Linked DNA regions of Homo sapiens. Each later gene encodes a partner of the first gene's protein in a complex. Each region holds a gene or a part of one and is shown in the gene's direction. Other genes may lie near its edges.

What was found.
Region 2: CACNA1S (region 1) and STAC3 share a complex: the UniProt entries of both Homo sapiens proteins name them as parts of the calcium channel complex.

What each region holds. Positions count from the first base shown.
Region 1 is NC_000001.11:201,060,332-201,064,145, reverse strand, and holds part of CACNA1S (voltage-dependent L-type calcium channel subunit alpha-1S), read left to right. Parts: intron 1-1,631; coding exon 1,632-1,684; intron 1,685-2,055; coding exon 2,056-2,202; intron 2,203-2,677; coding exon 2,678-2,879; intron 2,880-3,329; coding exon 3,330-3,488; intron 3,489-3,814. UniProt on the Homo sapiens protein: Pore-forming, alpha-1S subunit of the voltage-gated calcium channel that gives rise to L-type calcium currents in skeletal muscle.
Region 2 is NC_000012.12:57,242,782-57,245,710, reverse strand, and holds the end of STAC3 (SH3 and cysteine-rich domain-containing protein 3), read left to right. Parts: intron 1-499; coding exon 500-566; intron 567-745; coding exon 746-795; intron 796-1,088; coding exon 1,089-1,174; intron 1,175-1,344; coding exon 1,345-1,396; intron 1,397-1,485; coding exon 1,486-1,623; intron 1,624-1,800; coding exon 1,801-1,899; 3' UTR 1,900-2,253; downstream 2,254-2,929. UniProt on the Homo sapiens protein: Required for normal excitation-contraction coupling in skeletal muscle and for normal muscle contraction in response to membrane depolarization. Required for normal Ca(2+) release from the sarcplasmic reticulum, which ultimately leads to muscle contraction.

The sequences.
Region 1 (3,814 bases):
ACGCTCCCTGAAGGAATGAATGAGCCGCTGCCCTCCCTTTGGCTTCCACGTCCCTTCCAGACAAGCAAGAGCAATTGCTTGTCAACACCCAACTCTCGCCATGCTTTTGTCTCTCATTAAAAGACCCCCAGCTCCTGCCTTCCAGGAGGTTCTAGAAGCATAACAGTTCCAGTTGGCATTTGATGTCGCTTTTGACTCTGTGGAAACACCACGTGCATTCCACATTATAGCAGAGTCAAGCTTTGCTTTCCATAGTAAACTGGGCATTTGGTGTTAAGTGCCCAGACCCTGCCCAGTGGCAGCTCTATCCACTCTCTGCTTACCCCCAGTACCACCCGCCTCACCTTCACCTTCTGCTCCAGCAACCATAAAAAGGGCATGTGATAGGAACAGCACAGATCTGTGTGGCAGGGGCAGCGGGGGGCAAGGGCCAGCTGTGTCTTCAACTAGTGCTGTGTCCTTGGCCGAGGCAGTTTCCCTATCTGGGTCTTTGAAGGAACTGCACCAGAATCCGTGGATCTCAAGCCTGATTTAGCCTCTTTAAGACCTAGCCATCCTGCTGGACGCGGTGGCTCATGCCTGTAATCCCGGCAATTTGGGAAGCCGAGGCGGGCGGATCACTTGAGGTTGGGAGTTCAAAACCAGCCTGACCAACATGGTGAAACCCCTTCTCACTAAAAATACAAAAATTAGCTGGGCATGATGGCACATACCTGTAATCCTAGGTACTCAGGAGGCTGAGGCCAGAGAGTTGCTTGAACCGGGGAGGCGGAGATTGCAGTGAGCCGAGATCACACCACTGTACTCTTGCCTAAGCGACAGAGTGAGCAAACAAAAAAAAAAAAGACCTAGCCATCCACTACTTTCCTTCAAACATGTTGCTCAGGGACCCAATCTGAGACACAGATAAAAGGAGTAACTGCCACAATGTGCACATGTACCCTAAAACTTAAAGTATAATTTAAAAAAAATTCTATAATAAATAATCTGCAAAGCCTTGAAAAAAAAAAAAAAGGATTAACTGCTCTGGCCAAAGTCAGTGCAGAGGAGCACAGAGCCCCCCTACCTGGGCCTTGGGCTGGGACATGGGACCCCGCTTGACTCTGAGACAAGTTGAGTCATCAGAGCCCAGCTGGGCTCCAACTCTGCTGCTCCCGCCCCACTGGCAGGAGGATGGAGGTGGGAGGTGGGCAGCCCCTCCTCCTTGTTCCATAATGGGAGACCACAGAAGGCCTCCTGCAGCAGTGCGGGAGGTAAGGGGCTCAGAGGCTCAGCTCCCCGAGGGAGGGGCAGGGGCCAAGCTGCACTCATGTCCATCCCCTCAGCCCATCAGGGGGCACTCAGTAAATGCCCCTCTGAGGCACTGCCTTCTCGGTCTTGGCAGCATCTAGGCTGGGTGGGGAAGCCCTGGGGGAGCTGTGGGAATGAACGATGGTGAAGAAAGGAGGCTGCTCTGGGGCCCTGCCCCAAGGGCGAGTTCACGCCTCTGAGAGGAAGAGATGGGCTTGGGCTCCTTTTTTCAGATGCCTGCCTTCCCTCCCCCCTTCCACTGTTCACTCCCAGAGCCCACTTTTCTATCCTGTTTCCATGACAACATGCCTCCCTCCCTCCCTCCCTCTTCCTGGCTGCAGGGGAAGTTCTTCAGGTGCACCGACTTGTCCAAGATGACAGAGGAGGAGTGCAGGTACATGGGGCAGGGAGCACAGTGGGACGGTCACGGGGCAGGGAGCATGGTGGGACAGTCACGGGGCAGGGAGCACTGTGGGAGGGTTACGGTCACGGGGCAGGGAGTGTGGCAGGACGATCACAGGGCAGGGGACTGTGTGTTGGTGGATGACGGCCCTTCAAGCTGGAAACTGGGGAAGCTCAGCCTTTAGGCTTAGGAGGGACACTCACAGAGGCCCCTTTCCTCGGACTCGCCCAGCGGTGTCCCCTTGGGTCCCAGATCTGGAACTTCATTTCTCCTTCACACTCCCCACCCAGGGCCCAGAGGATGTGGGTGGGGCAAGGCAGCCCAGCCATGCCCTGTGGAGTGACTGGGCCTCCCTGCCACAGGGGCTACTACTACGTGTACAAGGACGGGGACCCCATGCAGATAGAGCTGCGTCACCGCGAGTGGGTACACAGCGACTTCCACTTCGACAATGTGCTCTCAGCCATGATGTCCCTCTTCACGGTCTCCACCTTCGAGGGATGGCCTCAGTGAGTGATGGCTGGGGCCTAGGTCCCTCATGGACATGGTCAGGTAGGACCAGGCAGCCAGCCTGCCCTTCTGCAGCCCCCACGGTGCTACTGCTACCTGTGGCAGGCGTCCAACAAACCCACCAACTCTCTGATGGTTTGATGGTATGTTGACTGGTCACTCCAAAGTAGGCCTGACCAGGGGTCTCTGACAAAATGCACGCAGTCCCCCATAGGTGTATGCCTCTCTGCCCACAGGGCAGATTGTTAATACTGATTGATTAGGGATAGATGGGGCAACCTCTTGAAAGGCAGGGCCATTCCAGGATTGGGTCTGGTCTTTCCTGGCGCCGACCTAACTCCTGTCCCGTAACTTGATTGTTGAGAAGGCTCTCTTGGCTCTCCACAGCCAGTGGGATAAAGCCCATCCTTCCCAGCCTGACTCTCTGCCTTGTCACCCCACCCAGTCTGTCCTCTCTTCTCTGCCCACCCCCAGGCTGCTGTACAAGGCCATAGACTCCAATGCGGAGGACGTGGGTCCCATCTACAACAACCGTGTGGAGATGGCCATCTTCTTCATCATCTACATCATCCTCATTGCCTTCTTCATGATGAACATCTTTGTGGGCTTCGTCATTGTCACCTTCCAGGAGCAGGGAGAGACTGAGTACAAGAACTGTGAGCTGGACAAGAACCAGGTGCCTGGGCTGCCTGCCAGAGGTGGAGGGCAGAGCTCCAGCAGGCCTCCTGCTGGCCCAAGCCCTAGGTTCAGCCAGGGAAGAGAGGCCTAAGGGTGACCCCAGAACCTGCATTTGATGCCAAGCCCTAGCCTCCATGCACCCTACCCTATCTCCAAACTGAAGCAATACAAGTTGGTAGAGTGGGTCTTCTTGTGGAACCTCATGATGCCCAGAGAAAGGAAGCCCTTCAGACCCACAGTCTAGTCTATAGCACCCATGGGAATGGGCTGTGATAACTCAAGGGGAACCCAAAGCCCAACAGGATTATTCCCCTAAACAGTTCACAGTCCTCAGCCACAGCCCCTGGCCACAGCTGCTCCTGACTTGCCCGTCAATCCCATGGATGTGGGTGTGGAGAGGGAGGGAGGGGCCTCTTGGTGCTGACCTGTCCTGTTGTATGTGTCACAGCGCCAATGTGTACAGTATGCCCTGAAGGCCCGCCCACTGAGGTGCTACATTCCCAAAAACCCATACCAGTACCAGGTGTGGTACATTGTCACCTCCTCCTACTTTGAATACCTGATGTTTGCCCTCATCATGCTCAACACCATCTGCCTCGGCATGCAGGTAAGGGCTCCCCAGGAGAAAAATGTCTGATCAGACTGGGACCTGGGCCTTGGGTAGGGCAGGATGAGTAGGGCAGGATAGCCAGGATTCCCCCCAGTAGACATTTCTTGTGCACTGTGTGCTGAGGTGCTACATGGAATACAGAAGTGAACTGCGCACAGGCCTTGTCACCAGGCACTTATGGTTTATTAAGGAGGTAATTCAAGCATAAAAATAGTACGGTAATTCTGCAAACAGGAGATAGCTACCACAGAAGGAGGAGAAAGTGTGGGAAGTAGAAAGTGCTTTCTCTGTTTTTCTTCTGCTGTTGCAAATCTGGATGGTTG
Region 2 (2,929 bases), on another chromosome or scaffold:
GTGACCCACCTGATAGGATGTTTTAGGGAAAGTCCCTGCATGGCCGGGCACAGTGGGTCACGCCTGTAATCCCAGCACTTTGGGAGGCCGAGGCTGGTGGATCACGAGGTCAGGAGATTGAGATCATCCTGGCTAACACGGTGAAACCCCGTCTCTACTAAAAATACAAAAAATTAGCCGGGCGTGGTGGCAGGCGCCTGTAGTCCCAGCTACTCAGGAGGCTGTGGCAGGAGAATGGCGTGAACCTGGAGGCGGAGCTGGCACTGAGCCAAGATTGCGCCACTGCACTCCAGCCTGGGTGACGGAGGGAGACCCGTCTCAAAAAAAAAAAAAAAGTTCCTGCATTAGGCAGATGGCTGAACTAGATATTTCCTCCAAGGCCTCTTCCAACTCTGAGATCTCTGAGATCCCATTATTCTATAGTTCTCTGACCTGATTATAGACAGCCAGGGCATGTGTTCCCAAGACAGCGTCTCCCTAACTCTGGTGCCCCCTCCAGCCTGTAGCAGCCATGATGGAGGAGGAGCCAGAGTCGGCCAGACCAGAGGAAGGCAAACCCCAGGATGGTGAGTGTTACCCACCTCCATCCAGAGATGGAGTAGGATCAGAGGCTCAGCTGTGGAACAGAGGGTGGAGGAGCAAAGGGCAGGCCAGCTTTGGATAGACGAGGCCCTTCCACAAAAGGGTAAGAGAATAAGAATTGCCCTCCAGGAGACAGACAATTTGTTGGTGTTTCCTATCCCAGGAAACCCTGAAGGGGATAAGAAGGCTGAGAAGAAGACACCTGATGACAAGGTAAGAATCCTTCCTCCCTGCAAGGAACCCAGTTCTCTCCCCAACCCAGCTCTGACACCACTACTCATGGCCCTGGCAGAAGCTCACTCTTTAACTCCTAGGCTTCCCATCACTTCTGACCCACACTCTCCATCAACTTGCACACCCACCCACGACCAAAACACTTCTCTCAGTTCAGGGACCTAGAAGAGAGTTGGAGTGTAGAGTGTGTGGTGAATGTCCCTGCCTTGGAATCCTGCCCCTCAGTGTGGGGTAGAGGAGCCCTAAGACTCATCATTCCCTTGCACCCCCAGCACAAGCAGCCTGGCTTCCAGCAGTCTCATTACTTTGTGGCTCTCTATCGGTTCAAAGCCCTGGAGAAGGACGATCTGGATTTCCCGTGAGAGGCCTTGGGGCAGGGGGCTGGTACTGCGGAGTGAAGAGGAAAGAGCTGGGTTCCCCCAAGGGAAAGGAAAAGGGGGGACTCAGGGCTTGGAGCCTATTGATGCTGGACCCGGGGCACAGCAGGGGACCTGCTATGTGAGTGAGGCCCCTCCCTTCCCCTCCCAGGCCAGGAGAGAAGATCACAGTCATTGATGACTCCAATGAAGAATGGTGGCGGGTGAGAGAAATGGCTAGGGCTAGGGTGGAGTGTGGGTTGAGTCCAGAACCCGACATTGAGAGATGGACTCTCCCTACTATCTTCCCTAGGGGAAAATCGGGGAGAAGGTCGGATTTTTCCCTCCAAACTTCATCATTCGGGTCCGGGCTGGAGAACGTGTGCACCGCGTGACGAGATCCTTCGTGGGGAACCGCGAGATAGGGCAGATCACTCTCAAGAAGGACCAGGTAGGCTGTTGCCCCAACCCAATCCCAGGCCTGAATGCTCCCTAGCCCACCACACTCCTTGGAGAGCTTAACCATTAATAAGACTAGGGTGAGCCCCTGTAAACCCCGGCTCCCCTGCTGTCCTCTCCTACCTTTTCCTTTGATTCCTCTCCTACTTCTGATCCTTTAATCTTCTAGATCGTGGTGCAGAAAGGAGACGAAGCGGGCGGCTACGTCAAGGTCTACACCGGCCGCAAGGTGGGGCTGTTTCCCACCGACTTTCTAGAGGAAATTTAGGCGTGCGGGCGCCTGCAAGCGGGAGACACCCACACCCCATTCTGGGCGGGCCCAGTGGAGTTTGGGGAGGGGGGCGAAAGCAACGGGACTGCTGGGAGAGGAGGGGTAGGAAGGCCCGCCTGAGCGCGACGGGGCTTCCGGGAAGGGACTGGTTCTCGCCCCCTTCCCCAGCCTGGGGCCTCGGATACCTGCTGCCCAGAGCAGCCCGGACCCGAAACCTTTCAGGCCCCGCTTGCAAGAGCTGGAAAAAAACGCGTATCTACTAGGAGGAGCCAGGGACTGGGGCGGGGGGCGGGGGCGAGGGAGGGCGAACTGTCGAATGTTGCGAATTTATTAAACTTTTGACAAAACTTAGAAAAGTTGTTATTTAACTGGGGTTGAGGAGAGGGCCTGCGGAGGGGTGGAGAATCCTCCCTAGCTGTCCCGCCTCGTTACCATCGGGTAACCTGAGACCCATCTGGGCTGAGGTTGGCGGGAGGTGGGAAGTGCGCCCGCCAGGTGAGGCCTCTGTAGTCAGTAAAGAAAGGGGAGCGCAGGGCTGGAGTCGCCGCCCCCGCGCCCCAGCGGTTGGGAGCAGGATCTTGTAGTAGGGTAAGTCCCCCCTTGCTCTTGGCGATTTAGCCGCAGGCAGCCCCTTGCATTTCGGAATCTGGCTTGGCGCCGAGCTAGGCCGCCAGGGGGCGATGCAAGATCTCGGTTGGAGAGCGAGGGATGGGGAGGGGGTGGAGGGTGGGTAAGGGGAGACAACCAGAGACACCAAGCCCGAGACCCTGGGCCTGGGAGGGGGTGGGGTGCGTGCCGTCTCCATGGCAACACTTCCTCAAGTCCTCCGAGAACCGAGCTAGCTAGGCCGGGGGCCTAACCCCACCCGCGCGGCCCCTGCCCTAACCCTTTCCGACAGGTACCGAGTGAGAACGGAGGGCAGACAGCTAACCGGCTCTCGCGGAGACACCCCTGCGGAGCACCGTATGCAAATGTTATTATTTGCATATGCAAATATGCAAATACGCCGGCCCTGGTCAGGGCGGCA